Homo sapiens: one gene and its partners. The protein of the gene in region 6 interacts with the protein of the main gene of each other region in a biochemical or structural test. Each region holds a gene or a part of one and is shown on either strand. Other genes may lie near its edges.

Region 1 (4,395 bases), on a different chromosome or scaffold from region 6:
GGCCATGGGGTATCCAGATTAAACATTGTTTCTGAGTGTGTCTGTGAGGCTGTTTCTAGCATGTGAATCAGTGGACTCCATAAAGTATAAAGTAGATTGCCCTCCCCAATGTGGTTGCATCATTCAATCCTTTGAGTGCCTGAAGAAAACAGAAGGTGGAGGAAGAAGAAATTCATTCCTTATTTTCCTGCCTTACTGCTTGAGTTGTGACATCTCATCTCCTGCCCTCAGACTGGGATCACTGGCTCTCCTAGTTCTCAGACCTTCTGACTGAGAAGGTCTGAATTATGCTACTGACTTCCCTGGGTTGCCAGCGTGCAGAGAGCAGAACGTGTAATTTTTCAGACTCCTTAATCATGTCAGCCAACTCCTCATATATTGGTTCTATTTCCTTACAGATCCCTGACTAATTCATTAGTGAAAATGAAGCTGGTATTCATTTAAAATAGACTGCTATAAACTAGGATGTTAATTGTAAGCCCCAGGGTAACCACTAAGAAAATAATTTTAATTAAGAGAAATGACACGGGAATTAAAATAGCATATTAAAAATATTTAACACAAATGGAAGAAATGGAGGAAAAAAGAAATAAGACATATAGAAACAAACAGCAAAATGGCAAATGTAAAGCCTACCTTATCAGTAATTACATTAAATTACATGAATGAAACATCCCAATAAAAAGTCAGTGACTGGCAGAATGGGCTACAAGAAACATAATCCAACTGTCTACAACAGACACACTTCAGATTCAAAGACATAAATAAAGCAAAAGACAGAAAAACATAACAAGATATGACAATTATAAACAGAAATTGTACCAAACAATGGCCCCAAAATACGTAAGTAAAAAATGACAAAGAGAGAAATAGACAAATCAACAATAAAGCTTTTGATACTCGACTTTCAATACTAACAGAACAACTAGACATGGAACCAGAAAATAGACCCTTTAACACTATAGACCAATTAGACCCAATAGACATATGGAGCACTCCATCCATTAACAGCAGAATTTACATTATTCCCAAGTACACACAGGACATTTTCCAAGACAGGCCATGTGCTAGGCCATTTTAAAAAAGGCCTCAAGGCTGGGCATGGTGGCTCACGCCTGTAATCCTAGCTCTTCGGGAGACCTAGGTGGAGGATCACCTGAGCTCAGGAGTTTGAGACAAGCCTGGTGCAATATGGCAAGACCCCGTCTCTACTAAAAGCACAAAAAAAAAAAAAATTAGTTGGGCATGGTGGAGTGCGCCTGTAGTCCCAGCTACTCGGATGCTGAGGCACAAGAGTCACTTGAACCCAGCAGGTGGAGGCTGCAGTGAGCCAAGATTGCACTGCTTCACTCTAGCCTGGGTGACAGAGCGAGATGCTATCTCCAGAAAAAAAAAAAGAAAAGAAAGGCCTCAATAAAATTTAAAGGATTGAACAATACACATTATGATTTCTCATTGCAATTAATTCCAAATGGATCAAAAACTGAATTATAAGAGAGAAAACTAGAAAACTCTTAGAAGAAAACGTACATGTAAATTTTTGTGACCTTGAATTGGGCAATGTTTTCTTAGATATGACACCAAAAGCATAAGCAAACAACAATGAACTTCATAAAAATTAGATATTTGTTCTTTAAAGGATGTAGGAAAGTGAAAAGACAACTGACAGAATGGGAGAAAATATATGCAAATCATATATCTGGTAAGGGTCTAGTATCCAGAATACATAGAAAATTCTTACAACTTAGCAAAAAGACAAATAATCCAATATAAAAATGAACTAATGATGTTGAGCATGTCATGTGCTTACTGGCCACTTGAGTATCTTTGGAGAACTATCTATTCAAATCCTTTGCCCATTTAAAATTGGATTTATCTTTTCATTTCTAAGAGTTCTTTATATATTCTGGATACTAGAATACACATGATTTGCAAATACATATATCTGCTTTTTCACACCATACATGAAAAAACAATACTGATAAGAATGTGCTAAACACAAACTTCCCTCCAAGTTAAAGTGTGAATTTAAAAGTGCAATCATGCCTCAGCCTATCCTGATCCCTTTTTTTTCTATTTAGTTTTTCCTGGACCATCATCTAAAGCAGGGTTGTCCAATCTTTTGGCTTCCCTGGGCCACACGGGAAGAAGAATAATTGTCTTGGTCCACACATAAAATACACTAACATCAATGATAGCTGATAAGCTTAAAAAAAAAATAATCCCAAAAGCCTTCCTGGGCTGCATGTGGCACAGGCTGAACAAACTTGAACTTAAGGTTTCATAACCATCTCATGAACAAGAAAAGTTCTCAGCAAGGAAAGAGGCTTCTTTAAAGGTTTTCTATTGTAAACTTTTTATAATGGCATTAAACTGTAATTTTTAAGAGGAAAAGTAATTCTGAACCTTGCCATAAACTAGGGCACAAACACACAATTTAAAAACAACAACAACAACTAGCACTTACAATTACCAAAGGCTTAAATGTTAAATCGTTAAGGGTGGGTTGGAGATGAGTGGTAGAGCGTAGGAGGAATGCTATATAGCTGATGTTGCTTGGCAGAATTTCAAAGAAACAATCAAAATGTTACATATTTAGTACAACATGTAGAATATTTTTCAAAGGCTTTATTTCTCTGTTCAAAGATAGAGACTGTCCATGTCTCTTAAAATTCTTCATTTCACTAATACATAATCAGTTAAAAATAGCAGTTTTATTTAAACATGTTCATCTTTCATAAATATTTTATCTGTAGGAGAAAAATGTTTGCTCTTCTCAAATCAAAACACATTTGTTAAGGGCAGGATTTCATTCAAATAGGAAGGTGATCTTAAATGTGAAATTATCAAATTTATGCAAACTACTGCTAATGCTCTATTTCTACCAATAATTAAGAGATTCCTGTAAACCCTAAAAGCTCAAGAGCAAAGGCACATGACAGCCATGCAACTTTTATACAATGACTCTTTGTTGCTGATGCTAAAATCTTATGAATTTCAATGAAACTTACAGACTTACCAATTTCTAACAAACAAGTGAGATTTGTATACCGAGAAGCCGCAAACAGTCGTAGTAATCATATTCTGCGCCGCATAACATCATTCTTCTTGCTAGTTTATGTTGGTTTTAGAACATGGCTGCAAATTTTTTTGACTTCCCATCACAAGGTGAAACCTATGTCCCCTTTTCCTTGGATATGGGTGGGTTTATGACTGCTTCCAACAGAGAAGGGATGCCAGGCAACTTCAAGGCTAGATCATATGAGGCCATGCAGCCTACTAGACACTGAACCACTTATGTAAGAACTTTAAATACCCTGAGGCTGTCATGCTGGGAAGGCTACCTGTAGCCTCTCCAGCTGACAAGTCCCACGCACCTAGTCATTCCCATCAAGGTGTCAGAAATGTGAATGAAGAAACCATCTTGGAAGTAGACTCTCCAGTTACAACTGTTGCAGTCCCTGGCTTTCAGCTCCTTCCCAGCTGTGGCACACATAAAGATAGCAGAGACAAGCCATCCCTGTTTCATCCTGTCTGCATCCTGACTCACAGAATCAACAAATGCTTGTTGTTTTATGTCAGTGTGTCTGGGGTGGTTAGTTTCTCAGCAATGAATAACTGAAACACAGATCAACAATTTAATTGGACTAACATGAGATGACTGTCAACTTTGGGCAAATAAACTGAAAGACTATAAAGACATGGTTCTGTTTCTAAAGGAATCTACAACCCGGCATTAGATTCTAACTTGCAGAGACTACCTAACACCTAGAAAAGTATCTGGCACATAGCAGATAATCAATATTTGCTGAATAAACAAATGAACTATATTATTTAGGGTTGAATGTTGTATAATATACATTTCTACCTGAATTTCAATGTTCTTATTTAAGAGAACAGAGAAAGGTCAGGCTGTTCATCACTATCTGTTCAAATGGCATATAAAAATCATATTACATTTTATAATTTTTTTACATTTATATACTCAGTAATCACTCTTAGCTGTCTGTATCAGGCAAATCACCACCTTTTCCAATCATCCATCTTTTCACTGTATCTTTCATGTTACAGGCCTAAGATACTTTAGAAATGATAAAATTGGTTACTTCAATACTAATAAGCACAGCTGGAAAATGAAACCTTCAACTGGATAAGCCTTTACCAACATGTAAATGAAAAGGCAGTTTGCAATTACCAAGGTTTTTTACATTCTCATTATAAATGGTTTGATAAGAAACACTAGTAATAGTTCAACTGCAAATTAAATTCTTGAATGCATGTTAAAGGAATATTCCTGAAAATCTGTGAAACTGTTATCTTTCAGCTCTCAAAATCATAAATAACTGAACTGACATTTCATTCAGTTCCTCTAACATCTCATAACTGATGTTTAGA
Region 2 (4,395 bases), on a different chromosome or scaffold from region 6:
AGTGTGCTTAAAATATTCAGTAAACCATGCTGTAAACAGATGTACTGTCATCCAGGCTTTGTGGTTCCATTCCTAGAGCACAAGCAGAGTAGAGTTAGCATAATTCTTAAGGGCTCTAGAAGTTGTGGAATGGCAAATGAGCATTAGCCTTAACTTAAAGTCGCCAGCTGCATTAACTCCAAAAAAGAGAGTCAGCCTGTCCTTTCAAGCTTTGAAGCCAGGCATTGACTTTTCTTCTCTAGCTATGAAAGTCCTAGATGGCATCTTCTTCCAATTGAAGGTTAGTCTACACTGAAAATCTGCGGTTTAGTGTAGTCATCTTCATCAGTGATCTTAGCTAGGTCTTCTGGATAATTTGCTGCAGCTTTTCCATTAGCACTTGCCGCTTTACCTTGTACTTTCATGTTATGGAGACAGCATCTTTCCTTAAGCCTCACAAACTAATCCCTGCTAGCTTCAAACGTTTTATCTGCAGCTTCCTCACTTTTCTCAGCCTTCGCAGAATTTAAGAGAGTTAAGAGTCTTGCTCTGGATTAGGCTTTGGCTTAACGGAATGTTGTGGCTGGTTTGATCTTCTATCCAGACCACTCAAACTTTCTCCATATCAGTAATAAGGCTGTTTCACTTTCTTATCGTTTGTGTGTTTCCTGGAGTAGCACTTTTAATTTCCTTCAAGAGCTTTTCCTTTGTAGTCACAGTTTGGCGAACTGTTTGGCACAAGAGGTCTAGTTTTTGGCCTATCTCAGCTTTCAACATGCCTTCCGTACCAAACTTAATTATTTCTGGCTTTCAATTTAAAGTGAGAGATGTACAACTCTTCCTTTAACTTGAACACTTGCAGGCTACTGTAGGGTTATTAATTGGCCTGATTTCAATATTGTTATGTCTCAAGGAACAGGGGAGCCTGAGGAAAGGGAGAGACATGAGGGAATGGCTAGTTGGTACAGCAGTCAGAACACACACAACATTTATCAATTAAGTTTGCCATCTTATATGTGTGGTTCATGACAGCCCAAAACAATTGCAATAGTAACATCAAACAATTCCAATAGTAACATCAAAGATTACTGATCACACATCACCATAACAGATATAATAATAATAATGAAAAATATGACACAGAAACACGAAATGAGCACATGCTGTTGAAAAAATGGTGCTGACAGATTGCTTGATGTGGAGTTGGCACAAACCTTCAATTTGTAGAAAGTGCAGTATCTATAAAGCACCAATAAACCAGAGTGCAATGAAACAAGGTATCCTTAAATCTACTATAAACCAAGGAGGTTTAATACCAGGGGATTTGCCCTTGAAGAGTTCATAAATGAGACACAGATCAAAACTGGACTCAATTATAATACCATCTATACCAGTCAGCCATTGCCACAACAATGCTGCATAACACAGTGTCATACAAGAATAAGCATCTGTTTTCATGCTCACAGGTTTGCCTGATGGTGCTGGTCCATGTGAATCTAGCTTCTAGGACCAACAGGTTAAACTAGGCAGTTCTTCATATAGCAATGTTAAGAGCTTTTTGCTTTTTTACATTCTTTTTTAGAAACGTACAATACCTTAAAGGCATTCTCCTACCAAAAACTTGTACCAAAACAGATACCCTGTGACTTCTGTCCATATTCCACTGGCCAAAGCAAGTTACTTGGCCAAGCCCAACAGCAATGGGGCAAAGAGGTACCCTCTACCTCTAGGAAGTAGAACTATAATGTCACATGGAAAAGGCTTGGATTCAGGGAAGATTTAAGAATTGGGAACAAAATTACAATCTACCACACAATGAAGAAATGTTGTGAAAAGAGCAGGGCATGACATGTCCAGCACAGATAGGGTACACAGTGGCACTAAACTTCCCAGCTTGCCTCACAGTTACATAGGGTCAGAGTTCTGCCTAATGGAATGAGGGTAGAATGGTATACTTTGATTCTGGGCATAGCCCTTAAAAACCTGTCACCCAATCTTCTACCATTCTCTCCCCTCATCTGTCAGCTGAACACTGATGTGCAGGAAACCTTCGATAGCATACTGAAGATGAGATAGTCCTATCTTACAGGTTCTCAGAATGGCTGAGCATATCAGAGCTCCCCCACACCATCAGGAATGCCTGTTTTGTGTATCAAGCAAACAAGAGATGGGCCACAAAAATTGAGGGATTGATCTGTTAAAGCAGTGAAATTATCTTCGCTAATAAAAGATGTCAGTCGAGCTATTTAACCCAGGATTGGGAGGTTGGAGAAGGTGACATGGAACAACCTTAGATTAAAAGCTGAAATATAAAAGACAGATAGGAATTTTTCAGGTGTAAAGGAGGCAAGATAAAGATTGTTCCAGACAAAATGAAGAGTTTATGCAAAGGCTCAGGGTGTGGCACTTTTTAGGACTTCTAAAAAATTCAACATGGTTAGGGGTAGATGTGTGTGTGTGTGTGTCTCTGTATGTGTGTGTATACACGTGTGTGTTTGGTGTTGAGTAGGAAGTTAAGGCTGGAAAGGAGGAATAACAAGTTCAGAGAAATATGGTTCTCTTTTTCTTTTCTTTTTTTTTTTGAGACAGAGTCTCGTTCTGTTGCCCAGGTTGGAAGCACAGTGGCGCAATCTCAGCTCACTGCAAGCTTCGCCTCCCAGATTCAAGCTATTCTCCTGCCTCAGCCTCCCGAGTAGCTGAGACTACAAGCGCCCGCCACCACGCCCGGCTAATTTTTTTGTATTTTTAGTAGAGACGGGGTTTGACCGTGTTAGCCAGGATGGTCTCGATCTCCTGACCTTGTGATCCGCCCACCTCGGCCTCCCAAAGTGTTGGGATTACAGGCGTGAGCCACCGCGCCCAGCCCGAGAAATACAGTTCTCAAAGGAACCAAGTGAATCAGGCCAAACCCAAAAGGGTAAGGATAAAGAATATGGATTTTCCCCTCAAAAGTATGTAGACGGAGGGGACAGGGAGGATCCAATTTGCACTTTACAAAGCTTCTAAGTTAACCTACAAGTGGTATTGTAAGTGCTGACAGTTTAAGTCCCCCAGAGCGGGGCTGGCAAGGGTGACTGTGTTCAGGGTGAATCTCCAACCATATCCATCCTTCCCCCTGCTAGTAAAGAAGGCTGACACCCAGACTGCCCCAAAGGGAAATTTGAGTACTGGGCAGAGAGATCAAAGAAGAACAGTAAAATACCCATGTAAAGGGCAGAGAGTAAATATTTTAGGCTTTGCAAGCCATGTGGTTTCTGTCACAGCTATCCAACTCTCCCAAGAGCAGCCACAGTATACAAACAAAAGGGCATGGCTGTGTTTAAATAAAACTTTATTTATAAAAATGGTCATAAAGCTTTCTAAAATAAGTAAACACATCAGATGGGTTAAGTTTGCCAGCCCTGGCCCTAGGCCATGAAGCAGGACATCGCCCTGAGCCACAATTCAGTTGGGCATGTTTGGGATTTACACCAAAACTAATTCCAGACTCCACCACTGTATAGCTGAGACTGCTAACTGCTCCTGTACTAGGGTAAAGACCGGTGACTTGGATCGTGAACTTCAAAAGAGACAAATATCCAGGACTCCAGTTACAGGAACCATTGTAAAATCACCATGGTCAGTATGTTATCCAATGTTGAATCAATACAACAGCCTTGAATCAGCCAGATGGCCGCGTGTTCTCCCCCACACCAGTCTCTGACCAGATAAATAACTGTGCCAGTTCAATAGAAAAATACACTCATTCCTACATTCATTAGGAAAATTTTACCATTAATTTTATGAACTTTTGCCTACTGCTTTCTTTGAACCTCATCTTTGTCAGGTAATCATGTTCTTATTTTCAATTAAGCAAATCTCATAAAACTTGTGAAGCCTATAAAAAATAACCAAAATAAAAATTAAAACCCTATAGTAAATTGTAATTGCAGGGAAATTACTTTTCATTTTCAAACTTTGGAAACATTTCTTTCATAGAAATGATTGTGTTTTCCTAGCTTTCAAAAAAGACTTTCTAAAATAAAAACTTACTGACATCTATAAAAACCCATTTCAATATCATCATAACTTTGCTTATTGAGCTTAAAGCAGTAAAACAGAGACTCCTTGGAAATACAAGTTGATGACTTTTTAACCATCAATCACCAAATATATATATTATATTTTATATATATAATATATATATACTTCAAATGTAAAAACAGAAATAAAAGTTTATTCTCTGAGACCAAGTCCAAGAGCAGGCTATTTACTTTTAACATGTACATTGTATTCCGTTATATTCAATAAAGAAGTACTGACATGGTAATTGTTCAGCTAAACAAATATGACAATTTGTTTGCAACAAATGTTAGAATGAATTGTATATGACTTCACTCACTAATTATTTAGTATAGACTATTTATCTTATGCCAA
Region 3 (4,395 bases), on a different chromosome or scaffold from region 6:
GGCAGTGCAACCTGGCCGATGGATGCCCAACCTGGGAATCGGGCACCTCCTCCCGCTGCTGGGTGAACTTGGGCCTCAGTTTCCCAATCTGTGAGTGAGAGAACCCTTCTGGGTCTAAGATCTTAACCCTTAAAATGTTCTAGAGAACTCTGGCCATAAGCAAGTGTCTTTTAAAAACAATGCTCCATTGAATATAGTTTTGAAATCATGACATTTATCTGGTTTTAAAATTTGAAAAGTTGAGATAACAAACATTTATCATTCTTTGGCAAAATTTCCTCCAGCATTATTTTGTCCCTCAAGATTCTCTCTAAGTTGCAGTGACCACTACAGAAAAATTCATACAATAATACACAGTGTATAATAAAGTGTGTGTGTGCAAAATATAAGTTTAAACTCTTTTAAGTTTAGCTGGGAGTGGTGGCTTATACCTGTAATCCCAGCAATTTGAGAAACTGAGGTGGGAGGATTGCTTGAGCTCAGGAGTTCGTGACCAGCCAGGACAATATGACAAAACCCTGTCTCTACAAAAAATACAAAAATTAACCAGGTGTGGCAGCACACGCCTGTAGTCCCAGCTACTTGGGAGGCTGAGGCAAGAGGATTGCTTGAGCCGGAGAGGTCGAGGCTGCAGTGAGCCGTGATTGCACCACTGCATTCCAGCCTGGGCGACAGAGTGAGACCCTGTCTCACAAAAAATAAAAAATTTTAATTTTAAAGGAGATAGACAAGAAATGAGCATGTGTGAAAGCACTTCTGTAAACTACATGCACTAATGATGCCACCCATTATTTAGCTATGAGATCTTGGGATAGTTACTTAACCTCTCTGTACCAAGGTTTCCTCATTCAGAAAATAGGGATAGTAATAAATGAATCCAGGTAAAATACTTTTTTAAAGTACCTACACATAAATTGTTGTCAATAAATGTTAACTATTATTATTTTACTTATTAGTGTAATGTTGTATAAAAAATTCATATGAGCTAAACCCAAGTGGCCAGGAGAAGAAGCCCCTAATATAAACATGTAAATCTCATAGAGGATATGGACCATGTTGATATTACCTGGGCCATGTTGACATTACACATAGACATTCTGACTCATGTCCACACAGGTGGAGGAACCCAACTGGGCAACAGGCAGGAACTTCTAGACTTTGTTCACTGTGCATCTTACTTCCTGCAGGCCCATCATTGGCCAGATTATCAACCTGAAAGCCTCCTTGGACCTCCTGACCGCAGTCACAATTGAAACTGATCCCCAGACACACCAGCCTGTTGCCGTCCTGGGAGAATGCGCCAGTGACCCAACCAGCATCTCACTTTCCTTGCTGGACAAGTAAGTCCCATTCATCTTAGTAGAGCTGGGCTCTCAGGGAACTTGAGGACCCCTAATTTCAGCTCTAGTCCTCTACCTAAGAGGAGGCCTAGTGGTGAAAGTGTTCAGGCTCTGGAGTCATGTTGACCTTGGTTTACACATCAGCTCTGCCACTAACTTGTAACTTTATCACCAACTTGACCCAGGCCTGTTTTCACATCTGTAAACTGGGGGTGTTCATAATAACTACTCATAGGCTTCTGAGATGACCAGATGAGAAAATACAAATATTTAGCACGCAGCCTGGAACATGCTGCCTCTCTGCCTGCTGGTTCTCTCCATTACTGAGACTGGAGTGTTGAGCTCCCCACCATAATCATGGATTTGTTCATTTCGCCTTTCAACTCGGTCAGTTTCTGCTTCATACCCTTTGGAGCTCTGTTGTTAGGTGCATGCACATTAGGATTGTTATGACTTCTTGGAGAATTGTCCACTTTATTGTTATGTAATGTCCCTCAATAATAATAATAATAATAACGATAAAATTATATTTACCTTCTTGCCTCCAGTTGGGAGGGAGAGGGGAGAGTAAGTGCCTGCCACGGGCTCTAATTTCAGATTGTCCCCAAATCATCCTCCACCCAGTGGAAATTTCCTGAAAGGAGATCTTGAAAACTTAATCCTCTCCATTTGACTCACTGATCCCTTTTAATCCACAAAATCTACATCTTAAGCTCTGTGCCTGAAAGAGCAGGTTTGACTCAGGCAAGAGGGTGGAAGGAGAAAGAGTGATGCTGGCCGATGGCTGGGAGAGGATGAATGACCCAGAAGCTGAGGGCTGGGGCTACTTGGCCTTGGCCAGGAGCAAGGCTGGGTCCTCAGCTCTCAGCCCCTGTGGCCATGAGCAGAGGACACTCCACTCGCCCTGCACTGAGGGATCTGAACACAGGTTGCTCAAAGACCCCTGAAAACCAAAGAAAGTTTCCATAGCCTGATGTGAGTTGCGAAGGCCGGGGTGTAAATTCAGAGGCTGGAGCCTGGCTGGGTGCTATCTTCCCAAGTAGCCTCAGGGACGCCATCCTGCTGCACTAGGTCTGTGCCCACATCTGTGAGATGGCACCACTCTGAGGCTCCAGATCCTCCCAGGGTCTTTCTTTGCACTTGTGGTTCAATCCCAAGTGCTCCCCATGGTCATGAAGGCTCTGTTTGATCTGGCCCCACCCTTGTATCCCTGTACCCTCCCCTTACTCACTGTGCCCAGATACAGTGGCCTTTGTGCCATGTCTCAGATAGGCTGTTTCTCAAGGCTCTTTCCCAGCTTAAGACCTTTGCCTGGGGTGCTCTGGCTACCTAGAGCACCTTCTTCTCACTCCACTTTGATGGACTTTTGCATCCTTCAGGGCCTTCCCAGGGCTCCTCCTATTCTCTCTCGTAAGAGTCTAACTCTTGCCTTTAAAGCACTCGTCACAAGTTCTCAATATATATTTAATTGTATGTTCACTTCTTTCATTCTTTCAGCCAAAAATGTATTGAGGCTGGGCACGATGGCTCCACACCGGTAATCCCAGCACTTTGGGAGGCTGAGGTGGGTGGATCACTTGAGGTCAGGAGTTCAAGACCAGCTTGGCCAACATGGCAAAATCCTGTCTCTACTAAAAATACAAAAATTAGCCGGGGGTGGTGGCGGTTTCCTGTAATCCCAGCTACTCGGGACGCTGAGGCACAAGCATTGCTTGAACCCAGGAGGCAGAGGTTGCAGTGAGCCGAGATCGTGCCACTGCACTCCAGTCTGGGTGACAGAGCAAGACATTGTCTCAAAAAAAAAAAAAAAAGTGTATTGAGCATCTGCTGTGTGCCAGGCAGGCACCATTCTGGGCTCTGGAGAACTGATTGGTGATGACAGACAAGGTCCCTGTTCTTGCGGAGCTTACCCAAGGGAAAGCTAAGCTGCCGTGGATCTGTGTCCACATCTGTGAAATGACACCACTCTACAGCTCCAAATCCTCTCAGCGCTTTTCTTTGCACTTTGGATCCAATCCAACCCAAATTCAGTCCATCGGTAAAGAACGCTCCAGGGAAATGAGTCCTGCAGAAAGCATTACCCTTAACTGGGCACTGTGATAGCAAAGCTCTCTCTTAGGTAAGCAGTCAGGGAGGGGTGCCCTGAGGAGGTGGCAATTATACTAAGAGTTGAAGGTGGGAGGAGCCAACTTTGGCAAGATTTGTTTAGGTACCACATCAGGGTATGTTTGGACCCTTAATGTTTAGGTACCAGGTTAGGGGATGTTTGTACTTTACTTATTCGGTATCCTCAGGGCCCAGCTAGGTTCCTGGTGCATAGCTGGTGCTCTGTAAATACGGGTTGAATGAGTGAACGAATAAGGTCTCTGCGCTGAGAATCTCATGAGGCACTGGGGTGAGCCGCTGGTCAGATGTGGGAGTCTAAGTGATGATCCATGTGGATGGGAGGCTCTGTCTGTTAAAGTGTCTCCATGTCCCTGGGGTTTATCTGACTCCACAGTATTTCCCGCACCGCCCCCAACTTTTTGGCAGTTCTCCCATCTCTTGCCCACTTGACCAGACTTTAATAGTTCCCTGTGTTTTCCAGACACAGCCAAATCATCAACAAGTTCGTGAATAGCGTGATCAACACGCTGAAAAGCACTGTATCCTCCCTGCTGCAGAAGGAGGTGAGTCTCCCACTCCTTGGAGCCCAGATCCAGGCCTGGTGGGGGCAGGTGGGGGAATTTGCAGGCCTGGCTGTATCCTCTGAGCACTTTTCCTTCGGAGGTGAAAGCTTCTCCTTAGGAGGTCAGCTGGAGCTTCCTCCTCTACTAATCAGCCTGGTGGGTAGCAGGGTAGAGCAGAGGCCTGACATTAGCTGAAATTGCCAGGTCCCAAACTTGAGCCTCTCACCATATCCACGCACTACCAATATGCTTTTGTAGCTAACATCTTCAACACAATTTTACTTAAATATGTTTCTTTAGAAGCATTTATTTTTAAAAATAAAACTTTATATCCCTATCATAAATAGAAAATTAATATCACATATCATACAATCAATGGACTTATA
Region 4 (4,395 bases), on a different chromosome or scaffold from region 6:
TGTAATTAACATAAAAGCTGAAAGGCCAAATTCTTTGCCCTAGGCTTTCAAGATTTTTTTTTTTTTTTTTTTTGAGACCAAGTCTCACTTTGTCACCCAGCGGTGCGATCTCAGCTCACTGCAACCTCCGCCTCCCGGATTCAAACAATTTTCCTGCATAAGCCTCTCAAGTAGCTGGGATCGCAGGTGCCCACCACCATTCCTGGCTAATTTTTGTATTTTTAGTAGAGATGGGGTTTCACCATGTTGGCCAGGCTGGTCTTGAATTCCTGACTTCAGGTGATCCACCCATCTCGGTCTCCCAAAGTGTCAAAATTCACTTAAACCCCAAGAAACAAACCAAAAAAAAAAAAAAAAAAAAAAAAGGTGGCAGTTTTTTTCTCTTCTGAGACAACGTCGTGCTGTCACCCAGGATGGAGTGCAGTGTTGGAATCTCAGCTCACTCAGCCTCAACCTCCCAGGCTGAAGCAATCCTCCCACCTCTCAGCCTCCTGAGTAGCTGGGACCACCAGTGTACACCATCAGGCCTGGCTAATTTTTGCATTCTTGTAGAGGCCAAGTCGGGGCAGGGGGTTTCACCATGTTGCCCGGGCTGGTGTCAGACTCCTGAGCTCAAGTAATCTCCCACCTTGGCCTCCCAAAGCACTGGGATTACAGGTATGAGCACCCGGCCAAAAGAGAAGGCAGTTTCCAAGTGCTCCTTAATTTTTCGAGTTAAGGAAAAAACACACATATCACCCTAATTTCCCAAATTTCCTAGAGGAAAAACGGTAAAAGGAAAGAGACATACATAGGGTTCAGAGCAGGGCTTCGAGTCAGAGCTCTGAGTGTCTGGCAGTAACTCCCACAGGAAGCTCTAATGATTCCCAGGGATGCTAAAGGAGCAGCCACACCTAAAACTCACCACACTGCTATGAAAGGGGCTGGACGCATTGGCTCATGCCTGTAATCCCAGAACTTTGGGAGGCCAACCTGGGAGGATCACTTGAGGCCAGGAGTTTAAGACCAGCCTGGGCAACACAGCGATACCCACATTACTACAAAAAAATGAAAGTATCAGCCAGGCATAGTGGCGCACACCTGTGGTCCAAGCTCCTCGGGAAGCTAAGGTGAGAGGATCGCTTGAACCCAGGATTTTGAGGCTGCAGTGAGTTGTGATCATACCACTACACTCCAGCCTGAGCAACAGAGCAAGACCCTGTCTCTAAAAAAAAAGAAAAAAAGAAGAGAGGGAAGGAACTAGATCAACCCCCTTCACACATCCTGAAAGACAGGCAGGAAGGCACCAAACGCCAGGAAAGTGTGGTCTTACCCCGACTTTCCGCAGTAGGTCTCCCACAATGTTGAGGGCTGATATCCGGGCCGCAGGTGTGAGGGGGGTCCCCCCGGTGGAGTCGTCCAGGCCTGGGTGTGCAAAGGGAAGAGCATGTAACTCACCAACCTATAGTCATGTCTGTGCGTTAACATCGCTAGATCCAAAACCACGGGACAGGAGGGACACTGACGCCTTTCCTCGGATCCCAAAAGCTACCCTATTTCTTTCCGTAGTTAACCGCATCACACACCCAAGGCCCGTATGACAACCAATTTTTCAAGTCCTTGTGATGACTGCAACAAATACTTATTTTTACATGTTAGTCTTGCTCTGTCACCCGGACTGGAGTGCGGTGATGTGATCTCAGCTCACTGCAACCTCCGCCTCCCAGGTTCAAGCGATTCTCCTGCCTTGGCCTCTTGAGTAGCTGGGATTATAGCCATGTGCCACCACACCCGGCTAATTTTTGTATTTTTAGTAGAGACAGAGTTCCATCACGTTGTCCAGGCTGGTCTCGAACTCTTGACCTCAAATGATCTGCCCGCCTTGGCCTCCAAAAGTGCTGGGATTACGGGCGTGAGCCACCATGCCTGGCCTTTAACAAATTTTTTTTTTAATAGAGACAGGGTCTCACTATGTTGCCCAGGCTGATCATGAACTCCTAGTTTCAAGCGATCCTCCCACCTTGGCCGCCCAAAGGGCTGGTATTTACAGGCATGAGCCACCGTGCCCAGCCACATTAGTCTTTTTAAACAAACCCAAAACAAATCCTTTTGAAATTGTAGAAAATCCATATAGTTAATTAACATAATGGCATCTGTGATAGATACAAGAACTATAGACAGGATGATCCAGCTTTACAAGGGTCCCGCTCTGCAGAGCCTCTCTTCTCCAAGTGGGGTCCATGCACCAGCAGCACATGAGAACTGTTAGAAATGCAGAATCTCTCGGCCAGGCACAGTAGCTCACACCTGTAATCCCAGTGCTTTCAGAGGCCGAGGCAGTTCGATCAGTTGAGGTCAGGAGTTCAAGACCAGCCTGGCCAACATGGCAAAATCTTGTTTCTACTAAAAATACAAAATTAGCTGGGCATGGTAACAGGTGCCTGCCTGTAATCCCAGCTACTCGGGAGGCTGAGGCATGAGAATCGCTTGAATCCAGGAGGCAGAGGCTGCAGTGAGCCAAGATCAATGCCGCTGCACTCCAGCCTGGCCGACAGAGCAAGACTTTGTCTCAAAAAAAAAAAAAAAGAGAGAAAGAAATTTCAGGCCCCACCCAAGACCCACTTGATCTGAGGTACATTCTACCAAGATCCCCAGGTAAGCTACATGCATATTGAAGTGTGGAAACATAGCCAGGCATGGAGTTGCATGCCTCTAGTCCCAGCTACTCAGGAGGCTGAGGCAGGAGGATCACTGGAGCCCAGGAGTTGGAGGCTGCAGTGAGCTATGATTGCACCACTGCACTCCAGCCTGGGCCACAGACCAAGACTGTGTCTCTAAAAACAACAATGAAATAAAGTATGCAAAATGGCTCTAGACTGGGGCTAGGCACAGTGACTCATACATGTAATACCACCACTTTCAGGGGCTGAGGCAGGCAGATCACCTGAGGTCAGTAGTTTGAGACCAGCCCGGCCAACATGGTGAAACCCCATCTCTACTAAAAATACAAGATTAGCCAGGCATGGTGGTGGGCACCTGTAATTCAAGCTTACTCAGGAGGCTGAGGCAGGAGAATCACTTGAACCTGGGAGGAGGGGGTTACAGCGAGCCAATATCGCACCATTGCACTCCAGCCTGGGCAACAGAGCAAAACTCCATCTCAACAAAACTAAACAGAAGGGCTCTGCACCGGAATTCTAGAAGTCTCACTGGTCTCTTCATGCCCAGGGGACAAGCTAAGGGATAAGGTAGTAGATGGTAGGGTAAGCCCTGGAGCCTGCCTGCCTGGGTCTGAATCCCAAACCATCTGCCATTCAATTGCTTCATGACTCTGCTTAACTCAGAGCCTCACTTTCATCAAACGGGGACAGCACCTGCATCCTGGGCCTGCGGCGAAGGCTGCAGGCTGGCCAGCACACACTGAGCACTCCTTAACTGTCTGTTATTAATATCTGCTGTAAAAGGCCTGATCGGAAGCTGTCAGCAGAGGGGCTGGGGTGAGAACTGAGATTCTTTTTTTCTGCCCATGCAGCACACGTTACGCTGAGTCTAGCTCTCGGTGGATGTATTACTAAACCCACAGAACGCTTTTTACTTTTTTGTATTTGGTCAGTGACATTTCAAATTTGGGAGGTTTTATATTCAACAAGAGGATTTTTGACCAGGCGCGGTGGCTCACACCTGTAATCCCAGCACTTTGGGATCAGCCGAGGTGGGCGGATCACTTGAGTCCAGGAATTTGATACCAGCCTGGGCGACATGGCAAGACTGTGTCTCCACCTAAAATACAAAAGTTAGCCAGGTGCCTTTAGTCCCAGCTACTCCGGAGGATGAGGTGGGAGAATCACTTGAGCCCACGATGAAGAGGTTGCAGTGAGCCAAGATCACGTCACTACACTCCAGCCTGGGCAACAGAGTGAGATCCTGTCTCAAAAAAAAAAACCCAACAAAAAAAAAGAGGATTTCTGGCTTTGAAGAATGGAAAAAGCTGCAGATGAAGGGCCAATCCTCGTAGCTGCAGAGTGGCAGCCACCCGCTCTGGGTGGGGTTTCCATTTCATCAGACTCCACTACTGCCTCTTACCCAGTCCTCACTGATCTCAATGCCCATCCCCAAGAACATCCCAGTCTACTCTCTGCTCAAAGCCTGAGAGCAAATCAGGCTCTGAGCCTGATGCAAATCATCACACCCCCAGGACCCACCCCAGATTCTTACCCAGAAACACTTTGTGAACCGAGAAAATCCTGCAATTCCCACTCCCCTTACCACGTCTGAAGCTCCCAGGTGTGTTTAAACTTGAGCTGGGTCCTCGGTGAGCAATGGGCGTGGACGGCACGGAGCCCGTGGCCTGCACAGCTGTGTCTGTCCTCTCAGCTTCCACTGAGCTGGGCATGGGGGTCCTGGGTTTCTCCTGCT
Region 5 (4,395 bases), on a different chromosome or scaffold from region 6:
GGCCCCAGGGCATGGTGCCCGCACAGTACCTGCAAAGGCGGGCGATGACATGGGCCTCAAAACACAGTCTCTGCAGGACAAGGACAGCAGGGCTCCCCCCAGCTCCGGTAGCCCCCTCCTCACCTGGGGATGTTCAGGAAAACAACACACTGGGGTTTCAGGTCCTGGATCTTGGGAGTCAAGTCCATTCCATCACACTGGAGGCGGGCGGGGAGGGTGTTGAGGTGCATGTGCCAGGTGGCCTCCGCCTCCCTCCCTTCCGGCCCACCCACCCACGGCAGCCTGGCCCCGCTCACCACCACTCGGATGTGCTTGGCCAGGTCCTTGGAGCTGCCCATCAGGAAGTCAGAGAAAGCTGTCTGTGGGAGACAGAGGGCGTCACCATCTGCTGACAGAGATCTTTCCTCACCAGCACCCGGCAGGGCTCCTGGGGCCTGGTGGACACAGGTGGGCACGGGCACGGGTGGTAGAAGAGGTGGGCACAGGCGGGGGTGCAGACCCCACTCACCCCGGCGTAGAACATCTTATTCCGAAAGCGGCTGTTGAATTTCTCTGGGTTGGCCTCTGGGTGGAGACAAGCAGTGGGGGCCAGTGAGTCACCCCAGCCTGCCCAGGTGGGGTTGGGGGAGGGCTGGGATGGATGCCTTCACTGGCGGGAGCAGGGTCTGACCCTCCCGGGGACACTCCTGTGCCCACCCTGCCCTGGCCTCAGTGGGAGGCTGCCAACCTCGAGACTCGTGGAACTCCAGGGTGACGTGGGCGTCAAAGCCCAGGCTGAAGTAGTTGTTGAAGACATCCAGGGGCAACTGGAAAAAGGTCAAGGGACCAAAATGAGGGCTGGGCCTCACAAATGTCCCCGCTCCAGGGGCCTCGTGTGGCCGAGCCAGCTCAGCCCATCTGTTCACAGGCTTTTCCTGGTCAGCAGCGTCCGCTAGGGCTCAGCCCAGCTCACCCGCTGTCAGGCACAGCCCTGCTCTGCCTGGTGGCTCCTGGGGGATTTCCCTGCGTGCCTGCAGCATCTCTTCCCTGTCAGCTCCCCTAACACTTCTTCCTGACATGCCATGTGGAGCACAACAGCGAGGCTTGGTTTTGCTCACTGCTTAGAGAAGTGCCTGGCAGGTAGCAGGCGCTCAGTGCATGTCTATGGAATAAAGCAGCATCTTCTGACCAGGCGTGGTGGCTCATGCCTGTAATCCCAGTGCTTTGGGAGGCCGAGGCAGATGGATCACCTGAGGTCAGGAGTTCAAAACCAGGCTGACCAACATGGTGAGACCCCATCTCTACTAAAAATACAAAAATTAGCCGGGTGTGGTGGCGGGTGCCTGTAGTCCCAGCTACTCAGGAGGCTGACGGAGGAGAATAGCTTGAGCCCGGGAGGCAGAGGTTGCAGTGAGCCAAGACTGTGCCACTGTACTCCAGCCTGGGTGACAGTGAGACTCTGTCACAAAAAACAAAAAACAAAAACAAAAAAAAAAACAAGAAAAAAAAAAGAAAACAGAAAAACAAAAATTAGCCAGGTGTGGTGGCACCTGCCTATAATCCCAGCTACTCAGGAGGCTGAGGCAGGAGAATCGCTTGAACCTGGGAGGCGGAGGTTGCAGTGAGCTGGGATTGCGCCACTGCACTCCAGCCTGGGTAACAGAGCGAGACTCAGTCTCAAAAAAAAAAAAAAAAAAACAAAAAAAAAACACAGAAAAAACAGCATCTTGTGAGGCAAGTACTATTATTCCCATCGTACAAGGAAGAAGTGGAAGTTGGAGAAATGAAGAGACACGCCCGAGGTCCCAGAACCAGCAAGTGGAAAAGTGGGATCCAGTCCCCAGTCACCTGCCCTGCCCCCCACCAACCCTGGCCAACTTACCCGGTCGGTGGCGCCTTCATCTCGGTCCTCAGGCCCTGCCTCGGGGTTGGGCTCAGCGTGGAGGTCCCAGCGGTCCAGCTGTACCACGTTCCCCTCCTCCACGTGGGAGAGGATCTTGGACACAGGCTCATCTGTGTAGCCCTGGGGGAGCAGGCAGGGACTGAGCCCTCTGTGGCTGGAGAGGCCCCAGCTGCACCCCCCTCCTATGGGTGCTTACCCCACCCCAGTTGAGGGTTCGGGCCAAGTCGTTGCCAGTACCCAGGGGCAGGATGGCAACAGGGGGTGGCGGCTTCAGGCGTAGCTGGTCCAGGGTGGAGAGGATCCAGCCCACCTGGGGGAGGAAGAACAGAGGCAAATCAGGCCCACAGGGACCCCGGCTTCAGGCCCAGCCCTGGTGCTCGGCTGGCCCATGCGGGGAGCTCACCGTGCCGTCGCCCCCGCACGCCAGGATCCGCAGGTTGTGCACTTTGCGGTACATCTCCAGCCTGGGCTCATGGGAAGATGGCAGTGGGGTCAGGGGATGTGTGCTGTACCCCAGGAGTGAGGCAAGTTCCCCCCCATGTCCCCCACAAAACCTTGGCAAGTACTTACGCCTCCTTGGGCCCTCCCTGGCTCAGGTCGAAGACTTGTCGGGGATTGAGATACCAGAGGAAAGACTGGATGATCTTTGCACCCTGGATGGGATGGGGAGCCAAGAGACAGTCAGGCAGTGGTGGGACGAAGTGGGAGCAGCAGAGGGAGAGGGGTGTGACTGTGGGAACCAGGGCCAATAAGGGGTGAGGGGTGGAGAAAGGACAGGATTTTCTCAGGATCCCTGGGAAAGAGGGATTGGGGTAGAAGCCAGAAACGGGCTCTGGGAACAGCTGCTGGCAGACGGGCTGGACCCCAACCCCCGCCCGAGCCCTTAGCTGAGAGGCAAGGCCGCGTTCACCTGGTTGCCCCCACTCTTGGGGTTCACAAACACCAGCAGGGGCTTCATGAGCGGGGAGGGGGTGGGCCTGATGATGAAGGGTCTCCAGCGGCCCTCCTGGGAGACAAGGTGAGAGGCTGTAAGCTCCTTCCCGTCCAGGACACCCTACCATCATCCTTAGCAGGCCCCCTGGGTGACTTTGTTCCCTCTTTGTACCCTCACGTACCATCTCTGGGCCAGATCTTACCAGGCCACAGAGCAGAAACTGGCATCTAATCCTGCCTTCCTCAGAGGCCCCAGAGCCCACACAGACCCCCACCAGCTGGCAGCATTAGCTGGGGGTGGAAGTTCTGTACCCTGAGCAACAGACCCCTCTCTCCTGCTCCCCTGCAGCCTCTGCCCAGCCTGGGGCTGACCTCAGGCCCTTTCTTGCTGGACTTCCTCTTGAAGGATGCCCTCTTCTTCTTCTTGCTTGCTTTCAGAGTATTCTGCAAGGGAAGCAGGGGTGTTGGTGACGAGGTGGGCAGGCTGGGGTAGCTGGCAGACCCCAAGTGCGTACGGGGCATCAAGGGTGCAGGCAGTACTCACCTGGGGCCTCCGGGCGCGGAGGATCCAGGTGGGCGGGATGACCACGGCTGCGTGGACCCCCAGCGAGCACGGCTCCTCGATCTGCTGCAGCATGAAGCAGGACACCTTGCTGTGGTACTGAGGAGAGCGAGGGGCCGGGCTCAGCGGGACCGTGTTCAGACTCGGGGACCCAAACCCAGCAGTGCAGGGCCTGGCCCTGGGGGCGGGGGCACCACTCACTGCCTGCTTGCACCACGAGCAGCTGATGGCCACAATCTCCTTGCTGTGGAAGGTGAACTTCTGCTGGAATCCCTGAGGGTAGACAGGATGGATGGGAACCAGGGCAGGCGTGGAGCAGCAGACCCAGCCCCTCTCCTGGTGCCAGCCTCTCTCCACCCAGAGACAGGGCCTCGCTATGTTGCCCAGGCTGGTCTCAAACTCCTGGGCTTAAGCAATCTGCCTCAGCCCCCCCAAGTAACTGGGAACAACAGGCATGTGCCACCATGCCCAGCTTTGAACACATTTTTTGTTTTTGTTTGGAGATGGAGTCTCGCTCTTGTTGCCCAGGCTGGAGTGCAGTGGCGTGATCTTGGCTCACTGCAACCTCCACCTTCCAGGTTCAAGCGATTCTCTTGTCTCAGCCTCCTGAGTGGCCGGGATTACAGGCGCCCACCACTACGCCCAGCTAATTTTTTGTATTTTCAGTAGAGACAGGGTTTCACCATGTTAGCCAGGCTGGTCTCGAATTCCTGACCTCAGGTGATCCACCCACCTCAGCCTCCCAAAGTGCTGGGATTACAGGCGTGAGCCACCACACCCAGTCTGAACACATTTTTTAAAATAAAAAAAAATATGTATAAGATAAGCCTGAAGAGCAGGGTGGCTTAGCCCGGGCCCCCTGACTCCCTGAAGTTACCTGCACGGCACCACATGCATACCCGTTCTGCCACACTGCAGGCTAACTCCTGCCTCACTCGGATTTTCCCTCCTTCCTACCCCCGAGGCCTGACCAGACCCCCATGTGCTGTTAAAGAAATTTACTGCCGCTTCCGAGTAC
Region 6 (4,366 bases):
TTTGTTTGTTTGTTTTTTTAGTAGAGACAGGGTTTCACCATGTTGGCCAGGCTGGTCTTGAACTCCTGACCTCGTGATCTGCCCACCTCAGCCTCCCAAAGTGCTGGGATTACAGGCGTGAGCCACCATGCCAGGCCTGCCTCTTTCCTACTTTTTGAGGGTAAAACTTGTTAAAACTCCAAATGATTCCAGGCTTTAACTTTTGGGCTTATGCATATCTGAAAATAGACCAAGAGGCCAATGACAATAATTGCTACCATTTTCTACCATGCGTCAGGCACTGTGCTGAGGGCTTTACGTGTACTTTCCAGTTTATTCCTCCCAAGTATCCACCAAGGTAGGTAGTTATTTCCATTTTACAGCTAGGTATACTGAGGCTTAGAGAGGTTAAGCTCTCCCCAGAGTGACAGTGACTCCACCATCGTCCCTCATCCTAACGCCAGCAACAGCCTAGCTGGCTCTCCATTGCCCCCTGCTGTGTATTCCCCTTCACACCCAGAGTAACTGGCTCACGGTTCCCTCCACAGCCCTCCAGCAGCTTCTACACCACTCTGAAAAATCCACGGGAAGTCCTGTGTGCCACGCCTCTCTGACTTCTCTGACACACCTATTTCTCTCTGTCCCCCACCCTACTCCACTCCAGTGGCCTCCTTCTGTCCTCCAACCTTTCAAATTTATTCCTTCCAGACTGTTCGTCTCCCTACTTGGCACACTCTCACCACCCCAGTCTTTGTTGTCCTTCAGGCCTCCACCCAAATGATGCTGCAAGGGGCCTCCCTGACCGCCCGGTCTAAACCAGCAAGGGCCATCACTCTCTTTCATAGTAGCACCCATCATTGTCTAAACACTCTGTGTTCACTTACTCCCTATAGTCTGTCATCTCCACTGGATGCACCCAAAGTTCCCTAAGGACAGGGATGTTGCCTTCCCAGCATCTAGAACACTGCCTGGTTCCAAGGAACATCCAAGGAAGTATTTACTGAAAGAAGTAAAAAGTGTGGGGAGAAGAGGAACCAGGATTTGAACCTATGTTGTTTGGGAGCCCAGGGCTCCAATGCATTAATTACATTGCCTTCTCAAGCGGCCAGGCCATGGCCTTGGAAGAATACAGCCCCAGCGGCAACCGTGCTTCCCCTGAGGAATAATGCCTGGAGGGAAACAGGAAGGAAACTTTTTAAAAACAGTATGTATTTCTATATTTATTTGAATTGTTGTCAGGTACGTGTACTGATTATAATTTACAAAATAATGCATGCAGGCCAGGCGCGGTGGCTCATGCCTGTAATCCTAGCACTTTGGGAGGCCGAGGGGGGGGGGGGTGGATCACCCGAGGTCAGGAGTTCGAGACCAGCCTGATCAATATGGTGAAATCCCCATCTCTACTAAATACAAAAAATTAGCTGGGCGTGGTGGCATGCACCTGTAATCCCAGCTACTCGGGAGGCTGAGGCAGGAGAATAGCTTGAATCCGGAAGGCAGAGGTTGCAGTGAGCAGAGATCGCACCACTGCACTCCAGCCTGGGCAACAAGAGCGAAACTCTGTCTCCAATAATAATAATAATAATAATAATAATAATACATGCAAAATTATGTGATTCTACCCCATCCAGGTCAAATATGTGATTCTGCCCCTTCTAGTTTAACACGCAGACGCATTACCTGCACACACCTTCCTCAGCTCCTAGATTTCTCCCTTCAGCTCACGATAGAGAACGTTATCACAGCCTCAAGCCATCTGCTATTACACAGAACCAAGCTAAGAGAAGGATTATTTGAAAAACATCAGGGCCAGGTGCAGTGGCTCACGCCTGTAATCCCAGCACTTTGGGAGGCCAAGGCGGGCAGATCACCTGAGGTCAAGAGTTTGAGACCAGCTTGGCTAACATGGTGAAACCCCGTTTCTACTAAAAATATTAAAAAATAGCTGTGTGTTATGGCACGCATCTGTAATCCCAGCTACTTGGGAAGCTGAGGCAGGAGAATCACTTGAACCCTGGAGTTGGAGGTTGCAGTGAGCCGAGATCGCGCCATTGCACTCCAGCTTGGGCAACAAAAGTGAAACTCGACCTCAAAAAAAAAAAAAAAAAAATCCTCTGAAGCAGTGCTTCTCCACCCAGTGAGACATCAAAATCACCCGGGAGCTTTCCAGAAATGCAGACCCCTGGTCCCTATCCCCAGGATCCTGATGGACTCGGTCCTGCATAGAAAATCCTGCAGGGCAATACGTGGCTACTGGTTGAAGTGACACCCCTTCAGCAATCTCTGCCTCTATTCTTGGACTACTTTAGGCTTGGACGGCCATGCCATCCACAGAATCACTACCCCTGGGTTGGTCTTTTGCATGAAACTCTCAACTTTAGTCAGGAGTGGCTACAAAAAATGCCCTTTTGCACTGTTTGGGATTTAACCACCATAACTCTTAGGGCCCTCTGCCTCAGCCTTACCCACTGGAGCACCTGAGAATCAGAGAAAGGAATAGTACCCCAGCAGGTGCCCCCAAAGGTTCATCTGTGCCAAACACATGAAGAAGGCAGAAGGCTGAGAGTCACCATTCTACATAGCAGGATCTCAGGAGCTTCAGTTAGGACTTAGGGCCAGGAAAATATGACTCCCTAAAAGAACTAAAATTATTTCTCCCTTATAATAAAGAAGTAGGTAATTGACAATTTCCTTTTTTGCCATGGCTATCAGGAAGCTCAGAGATCACATTTACCCTCACAGTTCATATACATTTCTCCAGTTTTCATCTTTGGCATTTAGATTCTTATTTTCCTACCCTCATTATTTACAAAGCTGCCTCAGATCTTTCCCATAGAGATAGGACATAAAGGCTGGGCGTAGTGGCTCATGCCTGTAATCTTAACACTGTGGGAGGCCAAGCTGGGCGGATCACCTGAGGTCAGGAGTTCGAGACCAGCCTGGCCAACAAAGCAAAACCCCATCTCTACTAAAAATACAAAAATTAGCCAGGAGTGGTGGCAGGCGCCTGTAATCCCAGCTATTCGAGAGGCTGAGGCAGGAGAACCGTGTGAACCCAGCAGGCAGAGGTTGCAGTGAGCCAAGATCGCACCACAGCACTCCAGCCTGAGCGAAAGAGCGAAACTCTGTCTCAAAAAAAAAAAAAAAAGGGTGGGGGGGGCGCATAAAGAAACCTAGCGTATATTCACACAGCAGTTCTTATCAGCAGAACTCTGTAAAGATCATTTCCAGGCCAGGCGCGGTGGCTCACGCCTGTAATCCCAGCACTTTGGGAGGCTGAGGCGGGTGGATAACAAGGTCAGGAGTTCAAGACCAGCCTGACCAACATGGTGAAACCCCATCTCTACTAAAAATACAAAATTAGCCAGGCATGGTGGCAGTAATCTGTAATCCCAGCTACTCAGGGGGCTGAGGCAGGAGAATCACTTGAACCAGGGTGGCAGAGATCACAGTGAGCCGAGATCGAGCCACTGCACTCCAGCCTGTGCGACAGAGCAAGACTCTGTCTCAAAAAAAAAAACAAAAAAACAAAAAAAATCATTTCCAGATCCTAGCTCTGTCCACAACTCCATGAACATGAATGAACGAAGTTTCCTCTCTATTTTCCTTTAAGGACTGTTGTGCTTCCCAACAGGACTGAGACAGCCCGGCAGGGATCAGAGCTGGACTAAGTCTGCAGGGCCCCAGACAAGTTCCAGCCTCCCCTTTCTGGCCTGTCATGACTTTGGACAGAGCTCCAGACCTTCCCAGGCTCAGTCTTCACCAACTCGGGTTCCTTGATTTGCCAGTTACCTCCCTGGCCCATTTTCCAGGCCACTAACCTCTCTGGCTTGGAGTGAAGAAGGATCTGACTCTGCTGCGCCCATCTCCCTCCACACCCAGGTCCCAAATAACCAGGCCACACACCAAGTTTCAAGTATCTGTCTCTTCCTTTCACTCTCTCAAAAGAAAAAAATAAATAAATTGCAGAAGGCGGCAGCATTTCCAGTCTTCCCTGGCTCCCGGACACCCGACCCCCGACCCCTGCCCCCCACCCTCCCTCCCGCATTTCCCACTCCCTAGACCCATCCCTCCCTTTTCCCCAAAAAAATTCCCAGGAAAAAAAAAAAAAAAAGCCACATTTAGACCTTCCACTCATGCAAACCGGCAAAGAAAAATGGTGGGGGCATGTGGAAGGCAGGGGCCCGCTGCGGAGTCCCCTGCTTCTCCCCCCAAAAAACCACCTTTGAGAAGAAAAAAAGTGGAAAAAATAAATGAGAAATCAAGGAACATGGGGAATTACGATGAGGGCAGGGGTGACCCCAGACCCTGCCTTAGGAGAGAGCGGAGGCCTGTGGCCCTGCATCCCTGCAGCGGGTGCTCCTCGAGGGGGCCCTGACTTCTGGAA
Region 7 (4,395 bases), on a different chromosome or scaffold from region 6:
GGGACCACAGATCACCAAGTTGATCTGTAAACACTGTGAGAGAATATTTCCTACCTAAAAAGTAGAGCTTGGTTGGAGTGGAAAGCTTTCCTTGACTCTTGCTACTGGAGAAAATTAGTCAGAGAGTCTAAAAATAGAAGAAAAACATGAAGAATGGCTCAAAATGATCAGTCAAAATCCTAAGAGGACGGAGGAGAGGAGGTGGCAAAATAAAGTAAATTATCTTCCAGGAAACAAACTTCACTGGGCTTTTGGAGTTGGCAGGACTCTGCAAAGAATCTTTTCAATGGTTGCCTTAAACTAATGCTGGGATTGTTTCAACTATGTGAAAGGAACAAGGATCTGGACTCTTTAAAAAGCCAGGCTACTTTCTGCTCCAGATGAAGGCAGTAGCTCTAAGAAAGGAAATTAGAAAGCGCTGGGACAGTAGTGTTACTACATGCCTTACCTTTATAAGACTGTTCCTAATGGGTGAGAGAGCTGAGAGCCATTGTTGAGGACTGGAACCCTGTGGCCAAATATCTACTTTGTGCCAAGAGAAATTCATGTCTGATTGAGACTGCCTAGTGCTCAGAGTGACAGAAGATGTTCATATGTATTTAACACCTGTATTTAAATGAGTAGTTAAACATAAACATGTCATGGAGGTGAGAGATGAGAAATTACTTAATGGGTACAATCTACACTGTTTGGGTGACGGTTACATTAAAAGCCCAGACTTCACCACTCTGCAATATATCCATGTACCAAAACTGCACTCGAACCCCTTAAATTTGTACAAATAAATAAATAAACAAACATAAGCTGAAACAGACTGGCAGAACTAAAGCGGAGACAATGGCCTGAGACAGGCTACAGGAGAAAAGAGGATAATAAGTGACTGTTTAGTGTAGAAGCTGATCTGGATTAAATTAGGAAGCAGGTGTTAATGGATGCTTGAATTTTTTTGTTTATCATTTGCACTATATGGCCTTACTGTTCAAAGTGTTGTCCGTGGGCCAGCAGGAGCAGCACACCTGGGAGCTTTTTAGAAATGCAGGATCTCAGGCCCCTCCCTAGATCTGCTGAATAATAATCTTCATTTTAACGAGTTTCAGGTGATTTGAGTGCACAGTACAGTTTGAGAAGCACTGACGTATGTGGTTTCTTAGTTGAACTTTTGCCTAACAAAATTCTCTGTCCCTTCCTCCTTCCTTCTCTCCCTTGTACCACCTCTCCTAGTTTCCCAATCTTAGTTTCCTTGTGATCTGGCACATAACTCTAATCATGGCTGATAGCCCCAAAAGTAGTGTTCCCAATATATCCAGATAAAGAAAAGAAAAGAAAAGAGTGGTCAGATATATATTGTAAAGCACAGGTTTGGGCAGTAGGAAACCATTGACTTGGCCTCTAATTGTGCTGTCTGTATAACTTTTGTCAAGTTCCTTGACCCTTCTGAGCCTCAGTCTGTAAAATAAGGGTCATTATAGTATTTACCTCATAGTGTTGTTGTGAGAATGAAATGAAATGAGGGGAAGGTATGTAAACTGCCTAACACAGCGCCTGACACACAGTAAGTGCTCAGTATGTGGTAGTCATTATTATTGAAAGCCATCAGTTCTGAAGTAAACTTAGAACTATGTTATGATTCCAGACTTTCAAAGTCCCCATGAGTCTTTCTGGAGAGCCTCCGGAAAGCCCTGTGTACCTCATCCAGTTCAGCTTTCTTGACTCCAGTACCAGCAGTCAAGCAAAAGTATTTCTTATTCCCTTGGATTGTCTTCTTGTTTTTGCTGAATTACCAAGATTTCCTACTTTGTCATTGCAAATGGCCCACATTTTTAGTACATTAAAGCTAAAAACATCTTTTGTGGGCTGGTCTGGAAATGTAGTTCAATTTATAACAATTTTTTTCTCCTATGGAAAAATGCATGTCACCTTCCAAACAATTGACTTGAGAGTGAACTTTGAGAGCTCAGCCTGTCTGCAGCTTGGAGGCTCCCTGTATGTCAATATATGGAGTGGTCACAAAGGCTAGGTAAACCAAGTCCAGAATTCCAGAGGTGGCTGAAAGACAATTGACAATGCTACAAGGAGTGGAAAGTAGGGCAAATGGATCAATCTGCGTGCACAGTATCAAGATTTAGAAAGCTAATACAGGAAGGGAGATATACCTCTGGAAGGATATTAAAAAATAGCCACAATGACAACACAAACCATTTTTTTTTTTACTATATTAGGTCAGGGGCCCCTAATCGGTAGCTTGGGATCTACAAACAATATCAAGGCCTTGCAAGCTAACTCTCCAACATGATCGCCCTTCTCCTGCCCTGCTCTCTGCAGTTTACCTGGATTCTCAGCTCAGAGAGGAAGACAGTAAGCAGCATCTCCCCAATCCTCTTCACTCCCACACCCTGGTAGCCAGCCCCCAGATTCAGTAAACTTCCCTCTACCTTTAATTTCCGTCTTCCCAGGGAGATCAAGGCATCAGGAATATACAACACAGTTTTTCCTTACAAAAAGGATGAGGACTCCTGTATTGGGTAAAATAAGATGACTGGTGAAAACAGGGCCCCCAGGATGGAGAGGGCTGGAAAGACAGTAAGAAAGGACCATGAAAAAGCAAAGGACTTTTGTGCCTTCTCCCTGAAGTTGTTAGCAAGAAAACCAATTGTATCTGGGGGAACTCTGGGTTAACATGGCAGCAAGATAACACAGTCTGATACCCACCATCTAGGAATGCCCATTAAAATATCCATGAAGCTTTGCAACAAAAAACTAAAACTTGCACTAGCTACGGAAAATAGGGGAAAAGGGACTGTTAATTGCTAATGGAGAAGGAATTTCTGCTAGCTGTTGTAGGGAGATGGGGTTGGACTGAGGAACATATTTATAATCTACATACACTCTACCCTCCTATCCAGAACAGCAAAAGTGCCCAACAAAGTTGGGGAAAGATTTTGATTCACTTCTACCAACTGTCCTTAGATTGGAAATACAGAGGCTCATCAGAAAACCAATGTCATCCCTTTACTATAAAGAAAATATTTTCAGAGGCAACAACAGCTCTGTTCCACTTCTTCTACCATCAATTCCTCTATTTTATTTTTTTCTCTTTCTTTCTTTCTCCTTCCTTCCTTCCTTTCTTTCTTTCCTTCTTTCTTTCTTTCCTTCCTTCCTTCCTTCCTTCCTTCTTTCTTTCCTTCCTTCTTTCTTTTGTTTGTTTTTGAGACAAGGTCTCATTCTGTGGCCCAGGCTGGAGTGCAGTGGCACAATCACAGCTCACTACAGCCTCAACCTCCCAGGCTCAAGCAATCTTCCCACCTCAGCCTCCTGAGTAGCTGAAACCACAGGTGCATGCCACCACACCTGGCTATTTTTTTTTTTTTTTTTTTTTTTGTGGAGATGGGGTTTTGCCATGTTGCCCAGGCTGGTCTTGAACTCCTGAGCTTAAGTGATCCACCCGCCTCAGCTTCCCAAAGTGTTGGAATTACAGGCGTGAGCCACCGCATCTGCCCAGCTCCTCTATTTCCTATATGCTTTGTGGAGACCACAACTTGAGAACACCATGTGGCTGGTGATGGTGGTAGCGGTGGTTGGGGCCAGAGATTGTTATGGTTGGGGCCAGAGATTGTTATCGGGAAAAGTTCTGAACATAAGCATGCTTGCAGACATTATATCTGAAAAAATGTAATGTGTAACATGTAATTTCATATTACATATATAAATATGTAATATGTAATTTCATGTAATATGAAATAATGTAACATGTAACAAATTGCAGAGTTGAATGACCCAAAAGATCAGAGATGGAAGATTCCATCTATCTCAGTCCAGCCAAACCTAAAAATAATGATAGCAGCAACAATAACACTATCAACTGCCACCAGTTGCTGGGCAATTATTATATGCCAGACACTATATTAAGTACTTAACATGTCATGCATTATCTTACATACTCCTCATAGTAAACATAACTTGCCATTCAAGTTTGTTTGAAAAGGTCAGGTAACAATAATGACATCTACCACATATTGAGTTGTGACTATGTGGTAGGTACCAAGTGTTATACATCCACCATCTCATTAGATGAATGCCTACTAGGCACTAAAAATGGGCTTGGATAAGTACTTTGTCCTTCTCAATTCATCCTTCAAGCCATCATCTCCTCTAGGAAGCCTTCCTTTACCCTTCCAATCTGTGTTTGGTATGCCCACTCTTTGTTCCTTCCATCACCATTCTGTGCTTCATTCCATGACAATCCTTATCATATATACTGTGATTGTCTCTTTACTTGCCTGTGCTCCCACCCTGGACACACACACACACACACACACACACACACACATACGCACACCAGACTGTGAGCTCCAGAAGAAAACACTGTAGATATTAGGATGTAATAATATATGGCCT

What was found.
Region 1: the proteins of DLG4 (region 6) and LNX2 interact in a test that uses a peptide from one of them, tested with the Homo sapiens proteins (one large-scale study listed by IntAct).
Region 2: the proteins of DLG4 (region 6) and FRMPD4 interact in a biophysical measurement, tested with the Homo sapiens proteins (2 studies listed by IntAct, with this or other methods).
Region 3: the proteins of DLG4 (region 6) and BPIFA2 interact in a test that uses a peptide from one of them, tested with the Homo sapiens proteins (one large-scale study listed by IntAct).
Region 4: the proteins of DLG4 (region 6) and NDE1 interact in a test that uses a peptide from one of them, tested with the Homo sapiens proteins (one large-scale study listed by IntAct).
Region 5: the proteins of DLG4 (region 6) and DGKZ interact in a biophysical measurement, tested with the Homo sapiens proteins (one large-scale study listed by IntAct).
Region 7: the proteins of DLG4 (region 6) and NCBP2L interact in a test that uses a peptide from one of them, tested with the Homo sapiens proteins (one large-scale study listed by IntAct).

Annotation. Positions count from the first base shown.
Region 1 is NC_000013.11:27,575,342-27,579,736, forward strand, and holds part of LNX2 (ligand of Numb protein X 2), read right to left. Parts: intron 1-4,395.
Region 2 is NC_000023.11:12,144,531-12,148,925, reverse strand, and holds part of FRMPD4 (FERM and PDZ domain-containing protein 4), read right to left. Parts: intron 1-4,395. UniProt on the Homo sapiens protein: Positive regulator of dendritic spine morphogenesis and density. Required for the maintenance of excitatory synaptic transmission. Binds phosphatidylinositol 4,5-bisphosphate.
Region 3 is NC_000020.11:33,174,220-33,178,614, forward strand, and holds part of BPIFA2 (BPI fold-containing family A member 2 precursor), read left to right. Parts: intron 1-1,187; coding exon 1,188-1,340; intron 1,341-3,927; coding exon 3,928-4,009; intron 4,010-4,395. UniProt on the Homo sapiens protein: Has strong antibacterial activity against P.aeruginosa.
Region 4 is NC_000016.10:15,691,174-15,695,568, reverse strand, and holds part of NDE1 (nuclear distribution protein nudE homolog 1), read right to left. Parts: coding exon 4,246-4,395; intron 3,760-4,245; coding exon of another isoform or gene 3,701-3,759; exon of another isoform or gene 3,403-3,700; intron 1,405-3,402; coding exon 1,313-1,404; intron 1-1,312. UniProt on the Homo sapiens protein: Required for centrosome duplication and formation and function of the mitotic spindle. Essential for the development of the cerebral cortex.
Region 5 is NC_000011.10:46,370,568-46,374,962, reverse strand, and holds part of DGKZ (diacylglycerol kinase zeta), read right to left. Parts: intron 3,651-4,395; coding exon 3,579-3,650; intron 3,477-3,578; coding exon 3,360-3,476; intron 3,260-3,359; coding exon 3,188-3,259; intron 2,889-3,187; coding exon 2,793-2,888; intron 2,536-2,792; coding exon 2,453-2,535; intron 2,347-2,452; coding exon 2,286-2,346; intron 2,193-2,285; coding exon 2,079-2,192; intron 2,003-2,078; coding exon 1,862-2,002; intron 807-1,861; coding exon 728-806; intron 565-727; coding exon 509-564; intron 360-508; coding exon 297-359; intron 198-296; coding exon 124-197; intron 30-123; coding exon 1-29. UniProt on the Homo sapiens protein: Diacylglycerol kinase that converts diacylglycerol/DAG into phosphatidic acid/phosphatidate/PA and regulates the respective levels of these two bioactive lipids.
Region 6 is NC_000017.11:7,186,001-7,190,366, forward strand, and holds the end of DLG4 (disks large homolog 4), read right to left. Parts: 3' UTR 1,187-4,366; downstream 1-1,186. UniProt on the Homo sapiens protein: Postsynaptic scaffolding protein that plays a critical role in synaptogenesis and synaptic plasticity by providing a platform for the postsynaptic clustering of crucial synaptic proteins.
Region 7 is NC_000023.11:107,783,791-107,788,185, reverse strand, and holds part of NCBP2L (nuclear cap-binding protein subunit 2-like), read right to left. Parts: intron 1-4,395.